Homo sapiens: one gene and its partners. The protein of the gene in region 1 purifies or fractionates together with the protein of each later gene. This does not show direct contact. Each region holds a gene or a part of one and is shown on either strand. Other genes may lie near its edges.

Region 1 (3,744 bases):
CCTCACAGAGGATCTTAGAGAAAACAGGTGCTCAGGAAAGGCGTTTGGAATGAATCCCAGGCAAAGGGCAGCTGCTCCGTGGAATGAATGAATGAACAGCCTGGTAGGGTTGGGAGGACACAGAAGCAGTGACAACACAGAATGTGACAGGGAAGGCCAGGGGCCTGGGGTTGCCCGGCGCTGGGTGGGGAGGGGAGTCAGGGAAGCCTTCCTGGAGGTGGTGCCCATGTTGCTGACTTTGGACCTCTGTGAGATCAGCACTGAATGAGCTGAGAGAGGAGTAGCTCCTCTCCAAAGGTAGCTGGCAAGGAGGAGAGCTTGGGCAGACCCCAGGACCAGTGGACTCCACAGGCCTCTCACTTCCCACCAACCCACACCATCTCTCCATCTGTGACATTCTGCTTTCAGGGCATGAGGAAGGCGGAAAGGCAGGTGGGGAGGAAGTGTGGGCTGCTGGTCTGACAGGCTCAGCTCTTCCCAGGCTTGTGACCAAATCTCCTGCAGAAAAGGATAAACAGGCCTGCTTTGAGTTCTTTTATCTTCTTGCTCCCAAGGCACACCAGCAAGCAGAGGGGGTCTTCCAGCGTTAATCCTGCAGCTGTTTAGCTTTTGAACGAGTGGACTCTTTAAAAAAAATGCCACGAAGAATGTCTCACTCTCTCACCCAGGAGGCTCAAAGAGAAACTTCTCTCCCACTGACAAGGGAGCTGGAACCCCCAAGTGTCTTAAAGAAGCTCACCCCAGGGGCAGTCTGAAATCAGGGGACCCCTCATGCTGCCTCGATTTGTTGCTGGCTGTGGGGCCTTGAGGACACCCTTATATTTTGCTTGGCTTCTGCCCATTTTGTAAAATGGGGTCAGGGTAATAAATCCCTTCTTTCCTTAGAAAGGCGTGTGGCAGGAGAGTTTCAGAGGTGGGAAGGGCAGCAGTGGGCATCCAAGCCCATGGCTTTCAAACTTTGTTTCACATTAGAATCATCTGGGAAACTTTTAAAAGTCCTGCAGGCCCCACAATCTCTGGGGCATGACCCAGGCATCAGTAGTTGATGAAGCTCCCCTGGTGATTTCAGTTTGAGAGCCACCTGGCTGCCCTCTGCAGCCTACCTCCCACAGTGTCCCAAGACAATACTTGCACATCCCCAGGACAAGGAGCTCATTCCTTCCGAGGCTGCTTCCTCCCCCCAGGACCTTCCTGCCTGGAGAGATGAGGGGAGTGGGAAGACTTGGTAATCCAGTTAACCTGGGTTCCAGCATGCAGCTGCTCCCTGCGTGTCTTCTCGGAGCCTCAGTTTCCTCATCTGAAAAATGACAATAACGATCTCTCTGAAAGGGCCACAGAGGCCAGACGAGGCCACACATGGCAAGCACCCACCCCATACCTGACGCCGGGCTGGACTGAGACCCTGAACTCCCTGCCCCAGCCACCTGAGGCCAGGTCTCTGAGACTGGCGCTGGTTAGGGTGGGATCAACACCCAGCCCGGGGGCCCTTCCCACTGTCCCCTTTCTCTCTAAGAGATAAGACAAGGCAGTAAGCATTTTGTTTTGCTCAGTTTTGCTTTAATGGTCAAAGTGTCAGACTCTCCTTAACAATGAAGCCTTGTCTGAATCTGCTTGTTTTTCCAACCCGGACACCCAACTGCACCACCTGCTTGGGGCCCCTGTCCCACCTGGGAGAACTGAAGAATGTCAGAGGATTTTTTTTTTTAATCTAGGGGAGGGTGTCCAGGGAACATTGGAGGCCTCTGTGCAAATCCTCACCGATAATTGACCCCACTTAAGTCATCCAACTCTGCTGTGATTGTGAGCCAGTTCACTAAAATTATTTCAAGGTAGTTACTAGGTGTTGAGCTAAACCCCTATCAGTGCCAGTGAGGATGGCACCAGGCTCAAGAGGCCAAAGAGGAGACCCAGAGCCAGCGAATGAGCCATGGGGTTTTACTACGGGCTCACACACAGGGGAGAGAGTCCAGTGGCTGCTGGCTGGACCGAAGAACCACAACCACTCGCAGGAAGTGTGCAGTTTTTTTGTTTTTGGTTTTGGTTTTGGTTTTTTTTTTTGAGACAGAGTTTCGTTCTTATTGCCCAGGCTGGAGTGCAATGGCGCGATCTTCACTCACTGCAGCCTCCGCCTCCCAGGTTCAAGCGATTCTCCTGCCTCAGCCTCCCAAGTAGCTGGGATTACAGGCAAGTGCCACCACACGCAGCTAATTTTGTATTTTTAGTAGAGATGGAGTTTCGCTATGTTGGTTAGGCTGGTCTCAAACTCCTGACTTCAGGTGATCCGCCTGCCTCAGCCTCCCAAAGTGCTGGGATTATAGCTGTGAGCTACCGCCCCCCAGCCTAAAAGCTTGCAATTTCTATAGCATTTTCACTTAGCACCTCCCCCAACAACTTCCACCTAGCAACCTCCATTTACCCCAAACCACAGACCTCAATCCTCTGTTTGGCCCGCAAGTTCCATAGGATGGGCCAAGAGCTCAGATGTTCCTCATAGATAAGGAGTGGATCTCCGGGTTGGCTACTCCCAGATTCCTTAGCTTAGAACCAAACTGCATTGAGGTGCGCCTGCCATACAAGGTCATTCTCAGGGCTTGCTCAAGTCCAGGTATCACTGTCCAACGTGTCTACCATACAGAAGACAGAAAACTTATGTTGATCCTGGCTTTGTCACTTACTGGCAGGATGACCCTGGAAGAATCATTTTATCTCTTTGAGCACGAGTTGTTTCTCCTATAAAATGCATTTGTAGGAAGGACTTCCTGGGATTACCTGAGAAGCAAATAAAATTACTGGTATGTGGAGCACAGTGCCTACCGTAAACTAAGCACTCAAGAGCTGTTGGTGCATGCACTTGCTGGGGAGCTGACCCCTGCCTCCTGCCCCTTCCTTCACTGGCTGGTCCACGCTCCCTGTCTCCCAGTCTGCTCCCCTTGCCCCACCAGGCCCAGGCTGAGACAGAGGACAGAGGAGGCCTGCACATGTAATCATGGGCATCCCTTCAAACTGCTCTTCTTTAAGACCAGAGGAGGCTCTGAGGACTGGACAGAGGAAGACTACAAAAGGGGCCATCAGTGGCAGTGCTTGGTCTCCTTGCCTGGGCACAGCCAGAGAGGGTACATCAACCCAGAGTGACTGGCTCAGGCATTAGGCGTGTGACAAATCAACACGGGATAGTGCAGCACCGAGGGACTAGCAGTGGCTGGGAGCAGTTACCACTCAGGGCTGAAGGAGCAAGGGAAGTGGGCAGCTATAGGGATAGGGGCTGTGGGCCATCAGTACAGGGACCCAGTCAACCCAGGAGACCTCACAGGGGATAAACTTCAACTATCTTTCCTCTTTCCTTCAGTCCCCCATTTATGCTTCCTGTTGGGTGTACCTCTCTGAAAGCCAGCAGCATGGAGCCCATTACATTCCACAGAGGTCAGTTCCCAGGGCCCCAAACAAGGTAGAGAGTGGCTCTGGAGAAGCAAACCAAAGACACTTCCTCACTCTGTCCATCAAAAGCCCGGGAGTCCACTGAATACACTGTCCTTAGGACACAGTTTAAAGATCATCTGTTTTTACCATACCCCTTAATGAAGGGGCTCTCAGCCCTTACCCCAAAGATGAATCAGCAGCCGAGCTGCCACAGACACCTCGGCGAGAGGAGTTTTGGAGGTACCCATCTCTCCCTCTCTGCCTCCTCCACCAAAGTAAGCTATAGATGGCTTCTGGGGTGACCCTGCCAGGGACAGGGGAACCTCT
Region 2 (3,744 bases), on another chromosome or scaffold:
ACTCCATCTCAAAAAAAAAAAAAAAGGAATAAAATAGAGCCTCCGCTCTCACCATCTCTGACTGGCCCGTTCCTCTCTAGGCGCGTCTGGGAGAAGCCAGGGCTGTGGTAACCGTCGTGTTTTCTGTCCCTCCCCAGAGCCGACAGCTCCTTTAATTTCATGGCGTTTTTCTTCATCTTCGGAGCCCAGTTTGTCCTGACCGTCATCCAGGCGATTGGCTTCTCCGGCTGGGGCGCGTGGTAAGCCTCTCTCTGATGGGCGTGGTGGCTGTGATGTGGCTCAGCTGCCAGGTTGTGGGCCTGCTGGGAAGCCAGGCGGCCACCGGAGCGTGCTGGTCCGGGATTGTACGCGCTCTCCTAGGGAGGGGTCTGAGCTCACCCTGGCAGCGCCCGCGTCCTCGCCAGCGCCCGCGTCCTCGCCAGCACCCAGCCATGGTTCGCGATTGTAGGCACTCTCCTAGGGAGGGGTCCGAGCTCGCCCTGGCAGTGCCTGCGTCCTCGCCAGCGCCCAGCCAGGCTTGTCTCCTGAGTGTTGATCACACCCCTGACCCGGGGTCTGGGAGCCAGTTCCTGGCTGCTGATGTTTCTGCACGGATCGCTGCAGGAGGAAGACCTGTACATCTGTAAAAACACACATACCTGGTGCTGTTACCACACCTGAGAAACTCACAGTCACTCTCTAAGGCTGCCAGGTGCCCAGAAGTGTTTGTGTTGGTGTCTTAAATTTCTGCCTTTTTTCTTTTCTTTTTTTTTTTTTTTTTTTTGAGACAGAGTCTTGCTCTGTCACCCAGGCTGGGGCGCAGTGGTGCAATCTCAGCTCACTGCAACCTCCACATCCTGGGTTCAAGCAATTCTCCTGCCTCAGCCTCCCGAGTAGCTGGGACTACAGGCGCCCGCCACCACGCCTGGCTAATTTCTTTTGTATTTTAGTAGAGACGGGGTTTCACCGTGTTGCCCAGGCTGGTATCGAACTCCCGAGCTCAGGCAATCCGCCTTTCTCAGCCTCCCAAAGTGCTAGGATTACAGGTGTGAGCCACTGCACCCGGCCCTTTTTTTAAACTATTATTATTTTTTTTTGAGATGGAGTCGCTCTCTGTCACTCAGGCTGGGGTGCAGTGACATGATCTTGGCTCACTGCAACCTTCACCTCCCAGGTTCAAGCGATTCTCCTGCCTCAGCCTCCCGAGTAGCTGGGACTACAGGTGTGTGCCCCCACACCCAGCAAATTTTTGTATTTTTAGTAAGAGACGGGGTTTCACCATGTGTTGGTCAGGCTGGTCTGAAACTCCTAACCTCGTGATCCACCCGCCTCGGCCTCCCAAAGTGCTGGGATTACAGGCGTGAGCCACTGTGCCTGGCCAAATTTGTGGCTTTTTAAATAGGCTTTTTATTTTGGAATAATTTGTAATTCTCAGTTGCAGAGAGTGACTGTTCTCGCCCACGTCCCCGACGTGTCTCCCTTGTCCTTGGCACGGCGGGAGCTCCCCACGGGTGACGCTGCTCACGGAGCCGTGGGTGCCTTTGGTTTCCTGGGCTCCCATTAGCAAGCTCCTGTTCTGGGGTTCCTGCCCCACAAGACTGCGGTACTCTCACGCCAGTGCACAGATCAGAATCCAGATAAGGTCCCAGGTTTCCTGGGATGGTGACTCCTCTCCCTTCAGGGCCCCTCGATCTGCAGGCCTCTCCCCTCCTGCACCTGCGCCTGGCGCCAGGCCCTCCAGGGTGGCTGGGATCTGTGGTTTGTGCACCCCTCGGATGTGCCGCTGAAGCTGGTCTGTCACCTGCCACCCCAAGAGCCTGAGTGACGTTGCCCCAGGGATCTGAGTTAGAGTCATAGTGAGCGTGTGCCTGGGACTCCCAGCTCTGCCAGCCTTTGGGGTGCTTCCCCCTCCTGCAGAGGCTGTGGCTGCAGGTCAAGGCACTGCTCGTCATCCTCCGAGTCCTCCTGAGCTCCCAGCTGCCAGCTCGGCTCCCACTGGCCCTTCCCTGGGCTCCAGTGCCTCCTGTGAGCCGCCTCCCCGGTGCGTCCCCAGCTCTCCCAGGCTGAGCTGGGTGGACAGGCCTGTGCCCGTGTTGGGTGGTCCTGAGATCCCGGCATGAGGTGAGTGCCCACATGTGACCCTCAGAGACCTCCCTGCCCCCTCGGCCCTCGTGCACGTGCGGCAGCAGCGACTTGGCTCTTCTCATTGGAGCCTGGGTCATCTCCCGCAGGTCACGGGAGAAGCTGAGCATGCGGTCCCTGCCCGAGGTGGACAGAAGGTGAACGCTCTTGAGAAAGAAACCCAGCGGGTCTTAGGAGAGCCCGGCCCCCCTTGTAATGAGAGAAATCAAACCACAGCGCACAGCGACTTCATGTCCACCGTTGGCTTAGTGAGGCCCCACGCTCAGTGCGCTGCTGTGGGGCGAGAGGGGACAGCCCCGCTCTCCCTGTCCTGGGCGGCTTCACCAGCGCCACCTCCCCACACACTCTGTGCACTGCTGTGGGGCAAGAGGCGACAGCCCCGCTCTCCCTGCCCCGGGCAGCTTCACCAGCGTCACCTCCCCAGGGGTGACGCATGCCCGAGGCCATGAGCCACGGCAGCATCTGTGGTGGCAGAGGACTGGAAACTCCAGAGAAATGACCCCCAGCGGGGCCTAGCTGTGTAGATGGTGAGGGTGGCCACATGGCGGCAGCCAGGTACTGAGGACACGGTGCAGCAGGGGCCCCCGGTGGGCCCCGCCAGGAATCGGACATCAGCGGGCGCCGCAGCCTCTAAGCGGAGCATGCAGCCCACTGACAGTGTGCTGGGTGCCTCCCTAGACCTGACACTTGCATGCGGGGGCGTGCGATGCTGGCCAGTGGGAAGCTGCGGGGGCGGCGGCAGGAGTCCTCAAATGCCTTTGCCGCTTTTCATAAATCTAAAATTACATCCAAACAGAGGTTTACTTTTTTAAAAAATAAAAGAGGCCAGGCATGGTGGCTGACGCCTGTAATCCCAGCGCTTTGGGAGGCCAAAGCAGGAGAATCACTGCTTGAGGCCAGGAGTTCAGACTGGCCTGGGCAACATAGGGAGAAACCATCTCTCCAGAAAAAAAAAAAGAGGAAGGAATGACCCAAAGACCATGCAGCCTGTGATGCTGTGGAGGCTCCAAGCAGGCGAACACAGGACAGGCCAGCATCTTGCAGGGACGCGGCGGGGGGTACCGCGTGTGCGTGCATATCACGCCCCGTGCATGTGTGTGCATAAGCTCCCCGGACACATCCGGGGGTGTGGGTCCTGCGGGCTGCCTGTGCACCAGGGAGGGGAGTCAGCAGGAGAGAGACTGTACGTCGTGCCTGCCTTTAAGTTCCCTGAATTTTAAACCCTGTGGTTTCATCACCTGTTAAGACAAAAATCTCAAAATGACTGTTTTCTGCCTCCTGGGTCTCAAAGGCAGGTGCAATGCCCAGAGGCTGGTCCTGCACAGAGGGACCCAGGGCGTGCTGGCCTTCCCAGTGTCCCACTGGTGGCTGATCTAAGCAGTGCTTTCCCTCGTTTTTTTATTTTGAGACAGAATCTTGCTCTGTCCCCCAGGCTGGAGAGCAACGGCACGATCTCGGCTCACTGCAGCCTCCCGCTTCAGCCTCCCAGATAGCTGGGATTACAGGCATGCGCCCTCATGCCTGGCTAATTTTTGTATTTTTAGTAGAGACGGGGTTTCACCTTGTTGGTCAGGCTGGTCTCCAGTTCCTGGCCTCAAGTGATCCGCCCGCCTCGGCCTCCCA
Region 3 (3,744 bases), on another chromosome or scaffold:
ATGGTTCTTGAATCAAAATTTGCTTCACTGAGGCCACATCCTCTTCAAGGAAAAATAGAGCCCACACATTGGTGAAATAGATCGGCTTCTAGCTTTCCAGTATGGTGGTGAGCTCATTTGCTGTTGTAGTCTTTTTGTCATTATTCTGTAGGCATCAGGCTCCAGGATTCTTATATTCTGTTTTATAATGCCCACATTTCCTTCTGTCTATACTGAGCATCTTTAAAATATTAAGAAATGTTTCATTCAGTCATCCTTTCAAATATTTGAATGCCTATTACAGTATTCCAGATGCTGGAGAGCTTACATTCCTGTGAGAGATACATACAGTAAGCGTTATAATTTCAGAGGGTGAAGAAAATAAAGCAACCTGTGAGGGTGGAGAGTAACTGTTTGGATGGCAAATGTTTGAGATGAGCGTCCAGGAAAGACAACTCAGAGATAGCAATCACCGAGAGACCTGAAACATGAGTTGGATCAGCCTTTGGAAGATTTACTGAAAGAGTGCTCCAGGCAACGGGAACAGCAAGTATAACACTTGCTATTTTAAAAACAAGGAGGAGGCTGGGCACTGCGGCTCATGCCTGTAGTCCCAGCTACTCATGAGCCTGATGCTGGAGGATCTCTTGAGCCCAGGAGCTTGAGGCTGCAGTGAGCTGCGATTGTGCCATTGTACTCCAGCCTGCGCAACAGAGTGAGACTCTGTCTCAAAAATAAATAAATAAATAAACAAAAACAAGGGACAGTGGGTTAGAGCATGGTGACTTAGAGGACAGCAGAAGAGGTAGAGGAGGTGCGAGGTGTAAATGAGGGAAGCCCAGGGGAGATTTCTATTCCACCTGCTGAAGAAGGGATTATGTCCTGAGGATAATGAGAAGCTATGGAGAGGTTGGAGCAAAGGAGAGACATGAAAACACTTTACTTTTTAAAAAAATCACCCTTGGTTGGCATGTGGAGGAGAACAGACTAATGAGACATGACACTAATCAGGATGCTGTTAGAGCAGAAGAGGCAACAGGGGACCAGGGTACAGGTGACAGAAGCACTGAGGTGTGGTTGGTGTCAGGATGTATTTTAAACAGGACTTGCTGATGGGTTGAGTCAGTGAAAAGAAAGGAATCACAAATCTCCAAAAATGACCCAACTAAGTAGGTACAAGGTTATATCTGAGATAGGCAAACAGGAGGAAGAGTTGGCCATGTGTTTGGGAGGTGGGAGAAGAACAGTGGAAGTCACTATTCTGTTTCAGTCATGTGGAGTTTGCAATACCTTTAGTTATTCAATTAGAAATGTGAATTAGGCAGTTTGTTGTACAAATCTGAGGTCTGAGAAAACTTGGGGTTGGAGAGCAAATTTCATTCAACAATTATTTATTAAATGTACAGTAGCATTTTCCTGGAGAGGGAGACGATGCTCTCAATTTCCTGTTTGTTTCCAAGGACTATGCAGACTCTTCAAGAATGTAAAACTTGTAGGGTAGAGCATTCTGTTAAAATTTTGGAAGGTTTGCCAAATGCATACAAATGTTAGCTAGATGGATATAGATATTGGAGAAGAAAGTTAACAGGAGGGATGTTCATAACTATCTTTGAGGGCAATAAACAGCTATCTGGGAAGTGATCTAAATGGAAACTGTAATACTTCCATTTGGGAAAAGCAGGTAACCCTGAATACACCTTGTGCTCAGGTGTTTTGTGTTTCTTTCTTTTTTTTTTTTTTTTTTTTTGAGACAGACTCTCACTCTGTTGCCCAGGCTGGAGTGCAGTGGCATGATCTCGGCTCACTGCAACCCCTACCTCCTAGGTTCAAGCAATTCTCCTTCCTCAGCCTCCCAAGTAGATGAGACTGCAGGTGCCTGCCACCACACTTGACTAATTTTTGTATTTTTAGGAGAGGTGGGGTTTCACCATGTTGGCCAGGCTGGTCTCGAGCTCCTGACCTCAAATGATCCACCCACCTTGGCCTCCCAAAGTGCTTGGATTACAGGCATGAGCCACCGCGCCTGGCCTGTGCTTCATTTTTAATGAGTAAGAGGTATTCAATAAATTGGGAATGGCATTCCATAGTAGCTCCTGAAAAGGAATACATTCTTCCTGCTGTTTCTGTTATTTTATGAGGGTTTCTATGCTTTTTTAGAAAAATTTTTGGTGGTAATGGGGGTGTGCAAAGGAGTTTATGTTGCTTTTGAACTTTTCTAGATTTTTTCTTTTCCAGTTGCTGTTGTAAAGTGAGTTCCTTTTCTTCTGTAAAAACCACAACAACCAAATGTGAAAAAAGCAAAAAGCATGGTTCCTTTTTCTGGACTTCAGGTGCATTGTGCAAGTATTGTGTAACTAACTCCCTTTAGAGTCCAGAGAAGGTCTGCCACCAGGTAGTGTTTGGCTTGGGAGACCTGAGGCTTTTTATCTCCGCCAGTTACTACCTGTTTGGCCTTGGAATCGTTACTTTACATCTCAGGGCCTCAGTTTCCCACATTTATCCAAGGAGTGGTGCATTATGTTTCCTTTGGCTTTTATATTTTATGACACAGTTGTTCTTAGGAAGCTGGACACACTTAGGAAAATATATCTATAAATTTACCTTTGGCTTTTATATTTTATGACACAGTTGTTCTTAGGAAGCTGGACACACTTAGGAAAATATATCTATAAATTTAAAATGTAGATGCTTGTTATCCTTTCTTATCTCACTCTTTTACTTCCAATGTCCCTCTTTCACCTAAATAGCTATTCCTTCCAGTATGCTTTTAGAAATGAGAAAGATAATATATTGAAGATTAAGGATGTTACATGACTCTTGTAAAAATTAGAAGCCCAACTAGCATGCACTGTTTTATTTCTCTGTAGAATATATTTGCATGTGTGTGCTGCATGATTGATTAGGGCATTTTATTCTAAGCATTTACTTCTAAAGGCAATGGCAAAATTTTTCTTCCTCTCATATTGAGATATTTAGGCTTGGTCAATCTGTAGTAAGGATTTTAAAACAGTGTACAAGAAAGCCCCGAATTTTTTGACATTTTTAACATGTGATTTCCACAGGGGGAGAATTTGGAAGACGGCATGTTACAATATGACATTTTATTGTTTGAGAGATTAAGTGCTAAGACTGACAATCCAGAGGAGAAACAATATAGAGAAATGATAGTGAGTAGACTTAAAGTGAGATTTTCAGACACCTTTTAGACCATTGGACATATCCAAATAAACATTGATTTCTATTAGCTGTATGGATTTTACAAACTAATATAAAGTTATTTTAAAGTTTTGTAACAAAAGCATTTTCCAAGTTTATAGAATTTGGTTGTCATGTTCTAGTTCTCTATATAAAATACCTTGCCAGGCTCAGCAAAAGTCGTATTTGGATTTGCTACCATCCCTTAATGAGGACATAGGTCATTATTAAAACTATCAGACATGCCTGAATACAAGATGACCTAAGTGGAAGCCATGTGGTCTTTTATGACCCAGCTTCAAAAGTCAAATATAATGTCATTTCTGCCATCCTCTATTTGTCAAAGCAGTTACAAATACCCAGATTCAAGACCTTACCTCTCAATGGGAGCAGTGCCAAAGAAGTTGTGGCTTTTTTGTAAAACCACCATAATAAGCCATGTCATATCCATAGAATGAAACAACATGATGCTGGAAAAGAAATTATTAAACTCTATATACAGTTATGGAAAGATACACTGTAAAATGAAAAAACAATGAGATGAAGAATAGTTTATAAGTCATACTCTCT
Region 4 (3,744 bases), on another chromosome or scaffold:
AAATTGTCTACATTTTTTTTTTTTTTGGAGATGTAGTTTCGCTCTTGTCACCCATTCTAGAGTGCAGTGGCACAATCTCAGTTCACTGCAACCTCTGCCTCCCGGGTTCAAGCGATTCTCCCGCCCCAGCCTCCAGAGTAGCTGGGATTACAGGTGCCCACCACCTCGCCCAGCTAATTTTTTTATTTTTAGTAGAGATGGAGTTTCACCGTGTTAGCCAGGCTGGTCTCAAACTCCTACCCACAGGTGATCCACCCGCCCCGGCCTCCCAAAGTGCTGGGATGACAGGCGGGAGCCACCGCGCCCATCCCTAAGTTGTCTACATTTATCCTTACTTTCCCTGACTTTCCTAAGAGATTTTCCAGGGTAAATTTAACTATTCTAAATGCATTTATCAGCCAGATGAAATGGCACTCTATTTCAAAATAGCTATACTTAAGATATTTGATGCAGTGATGTTTTTATTCACTTATTTAAGTGTGTTCATGTATACTTATCTCACCTTAGTATTTACTAGGTCTTGTGTTTTCCTCAAACAAGTCCTTAGGGTGTTAAATCACCCAGAGGGTTTTAATTAATGACTGGTGGGGACTGAGTGTTTGGGACCTGTTTGTGAGGTCTCTTTTATGCCCTGATCTGTGGCTTTATTCTGTTGCTGTGTTTGGTTCTTCAGCATTATATAAGCTAGCATGAAATTGAGTCTTCAATTCGATGGGGAATTGAATTTGAACCCTCCAAATAGTAAGCAGTCCTTAAGGTTGACAAGAATTCTGTTTGTTAACACCTTGCTGGGAAATAGGCTAAGCTCAAATTTAGGACACTTAAGACCAATAGGTTCACTTCTACTTCAGATAAACTAAATAAATTCCTCTCCTAGGGGCAGCTATTTTTGCTATCTTTGTAACACATCCAAGCCAAAGTTTGAGAGCTTGAAAGATTTCTAATATGTTTTCTGATAGGTTTATTTGTTTTGTTTCTTTTCCTCTTTCCAAATGCCCATACTTAGTTTTCATCAGTAGCAGACATCTTCGTTGAATTTTTGTTAGGAAAATAATTATTATATTTTGAGACAGAGTCTCATTCTGTTGCTCAGGCTGGAGTGCAGTGGCGCAATCTTGGCTCATGCAACCTCCACCCTCTGGGCTCAGGTGATCCTCCTGCCTTAGTCTTCACAGGCAGCTGGGACTGTAGGTGTGCTTGCCACCACGCCCAGCTAATTTTTGTATTTTCAGTACAGACGGGGTTTCACACTGGTCTTGAACACCTGACCCCAAGTGATCCGTGTGCCTTGGCCTCCCAAAGTGTTAGGATTACAGGCATGAGCCACCGTATCCAGCCGGAAAATTAAATATTTTAATATGTAATGTCGGCATATAGTAAGCCTTCCCTAGATAAATGGTAATTTTATTATTGGTTTGAATGGCCTGAATGTTTTTCATTTCTTTAATCTTGGTTGTAAGTATTGTGATAGATTGTGTTATTGTTTAAAGTATTCACTACCACTGTCTGCAACAGGATTACATATCCAAAAACCACTGGCCAAATGACTTGCTTTATCCAGTGAAATGTTAGTGGAAATGATATACCATGTCAAACAGGAGCTTTGAGAGCTCTCCTGTGTTTTGTCATATTCCTTTTCCCTCTGATGTGAGGTAGGTGTACTCCAGGTGGGGTCTGCTGTTTTAGCCCACATCTTGGATTGTAGACTACATAGTGCAAAGCAGAAACTGATTCTTATTGCAAGATTTTATAAAATATAAATTGAGTGAAAAATAAACCTTTGCTGTAAGCCACAAAGGTGTTTGGATTGGTTACCTCAGCATAACAACCTATGCTGACTCTATTTTATATACACTCATATTTGCAAGTGAGCAGGTTTTAGCACATGGACCGATATATCAGCAGTGAGGTCGCAAGCTTTTTGAGGACACAACCACATTTTTGTTTATTTGTGTGTACTTCATGGCATCTAGTGTAATGGCTTGCATGTAGCAGGTAAATGCTTATCTTACAGATGAATAAATACATATTTAGAGATGAGCGATTGTGAGGAAAAGCAGGGAGCATTACGCAGTGTTTCTTTTAATACCCTCATCAGTGATAGCCAGGTAGGCACTAACCTTTATAAATATGAAGATAAACTATCTACAACACATATTCTAATTATTTGCAGTGGTCTGAGTGTAGGATATTCACCTAGAACTCTGTTAACTTTTGGATTGAAGTTGTCTTATGAATAGATTTTGTATTCATACACTTTGACAAGTGTTCAGACACTTCTTTTGTATTCAAATTTAAAAATGCAAGAGGAAATGAATGTTTGGGAAAGGGTACCCTTGGAACATGAGAACTTTTTTGGAGTAAGAGTAACTATGCGAAGTTTTAAAAAGTCAGTAATACGGCCGGGTGCGGTGGCTCACGCCTGTAATCCCAGCATTTTGGGAGGCCAAGGCGGGTGGATCATGAGGTCAGGAGTTCGAGACCAGCCTGGCCAACATGGTGAAACCCCGTCTCCACTAAAAAATACAATAATTAGCCGGGTGCGGTGGCGGGTGCCTGTAATCCCAGCTACTCGGGAGGCCGAGGCAGGAGAATCGCTTGAACCTGGGAGGCGGAGGTTGCAGTGAGCCGAGATCGCACCACTGCACTCTAGCCTGGGTGACAGGGCAAGACTCCAAAAAAAAGTTAATAATACACGGAACTTAAGGGAGAAAGATGGAGCAACTTGGTTCCTGTATAATACTTGCTAGAAGAGATCTGTTTGGGGTGAGGTATACATAGAATTTAGTCAGAATACATATTGTCTGTACTGAATACAAACAATTTCAAATGGAAGAGCTTCTAAAACATGTCCCTTGGTAGAAGTTGAGAATCGTTTATTCCAAGCAAAATTAATTCCAAGTAGCATTTGTTTTTAATTTACTCTGTATCAGCTACTGTGCCAAGGATTTCACCTGTATTATCTCATGTGTTTCCCACAGTAATCCTATCAACTCAGGTGTTGTTATCCTCATTTTTCAGATGAGGAAACAGGTACAGAAGTGAAATTACTGAAGTTTACATTGCCAGGAAATGTAATTGTCTCTTGGTATCCATGAAAGATTGGTTCCAGGACTCCTCAAGGACACCAAAATCCACGGATGCTCAAGTCCTTGATTTAAGATGGTGTAGTATTTCCATATAACTTCTGTACATCCTCCTATATACTTTAAATCATCTCTGGATTACTTATGATACCTAATACAATGTAAATTCTCTGTAAATAACTGTTATCCTGTATTCTTTAGGAAATAATGAAAAGAAAAAAGACTGTACATGATAAGTACAGATGCAGTTTTTCCTCCCCCACCGCCAAGTATTTTTTTTTTTTTTTTTGAGGTGGAGTCTTGCTTTGTTGCCCAGGCTGAAATGCAGTGGCGTGATCTCGGCTCACTGTGAACTCTGCCTCCCAGGTTCAAGCAATTCTCCTGCCTCAGCCTCCCGAGTAGCTGGGATTACAGGCGCGCACCACCACGCCTGGATAATTTCTTTGTATTTTAATTAGAGACGGGGTTTCACCATGTTGGTCAGGCTGGTCTCAAACTCCTGACCTCGTGATCCACCTGCCTCGACCTCCCAAAGTGCTGGAATTACAGGCGTGAGCCACTGAGCCCAGCACCCCTTAATATTTTAAATCTGAGGTTGGTTGAATTATGATGTGGAACCCACAGATGCAGAGGGTTGACTGTAGTCTGATATAGCAGT

Evidence for each region.
Region 2: the proteins of GDPD5 (region 1) and SCAMP4 purify together in Homo sapiens (co-immunoprecipitation; 3 studies listed by BioGRID and IntAct, with this or other methods). This does not show direct contact.
Region 3: the proteins of GDPD5 (region 1) and PIP4P2 purify together in Homo sapiens (co-immunoprecipitation; 3 studies listed by BioGRID and IntAct, with this or other methods). This does not show direct contact.
Region 4: the proteins of GDPD5 (region 1) and NDUFS4 purify together in Homo sapiens (co-immunoprecipitation; 3 studies listed by BioGRID and IntAct, with this or other methods). This does not show direct contact.

What each region holds. Positions count from the first base shown.
Region 1 is NC_000011.10:75,515,769-75,519,512, reverse strand, and holds part of GDPD5 (glycerophosphodiester phosphodiesterase domain-containing protein 5), read left to right. Parts: exon of another isoform or gene 1-498; intron 499-1,239; exon of another isoform or gene 1,240-1,297; intron 1,298-2,086; exon of another isoform or gene 2,087-3,744. UniProt on the Homo sapiens protein: Glycerophosphodiester phosphodiesterase that promotes neurite formation and drives spinal motor neuron differentiation.
Region 2 is NC_000019.10:1,918,752-1,922,495, forward strand, and holds part of SCAMP4 (secretory carrier-associated membrane protein 4), read left to right. Parts: intron 1-137; coding exon 138-239; intron 240-3,744. UniProt on the Homo sapiens protein: Probably involved in membrane protein trafficking.
Region 3 is NC_000008.11:91,030,763-91,034,506, reverse strand, and holds part of PIP4P2 (type 2 phosphatidylinositol 4,5-bisphosphate 4-phosphatase), read left to right. Parts: intron 1-3,744. UniProt on the Homo sapiens protein: Catalyzes the hydrolysis of phosphatidylinositol-4,5-bisphosphate (PtdIns-4,5-P2) to phosphatidylinositol-4-phosphate (PtdIns-4-P).
Region 4 is NC_000005.10:53,563,492-53,567,235, forward strand, and holds part of NDUFS4 (NADH dehydrogenase [ubiquinone] iron-sulfur protein 4, mitochondrial isoform 1 precursor), read left to right. Parts: intron 1-3,744. UniProt on the Homo sapiens protein: Accessory subunit of the mitochondrial membrane respiratory chain NADH dehydrogenase (Complex I), that is believed not to be involved in catalysis. Complex I functions in the transfer of electrons from NADH to the respiratory chain.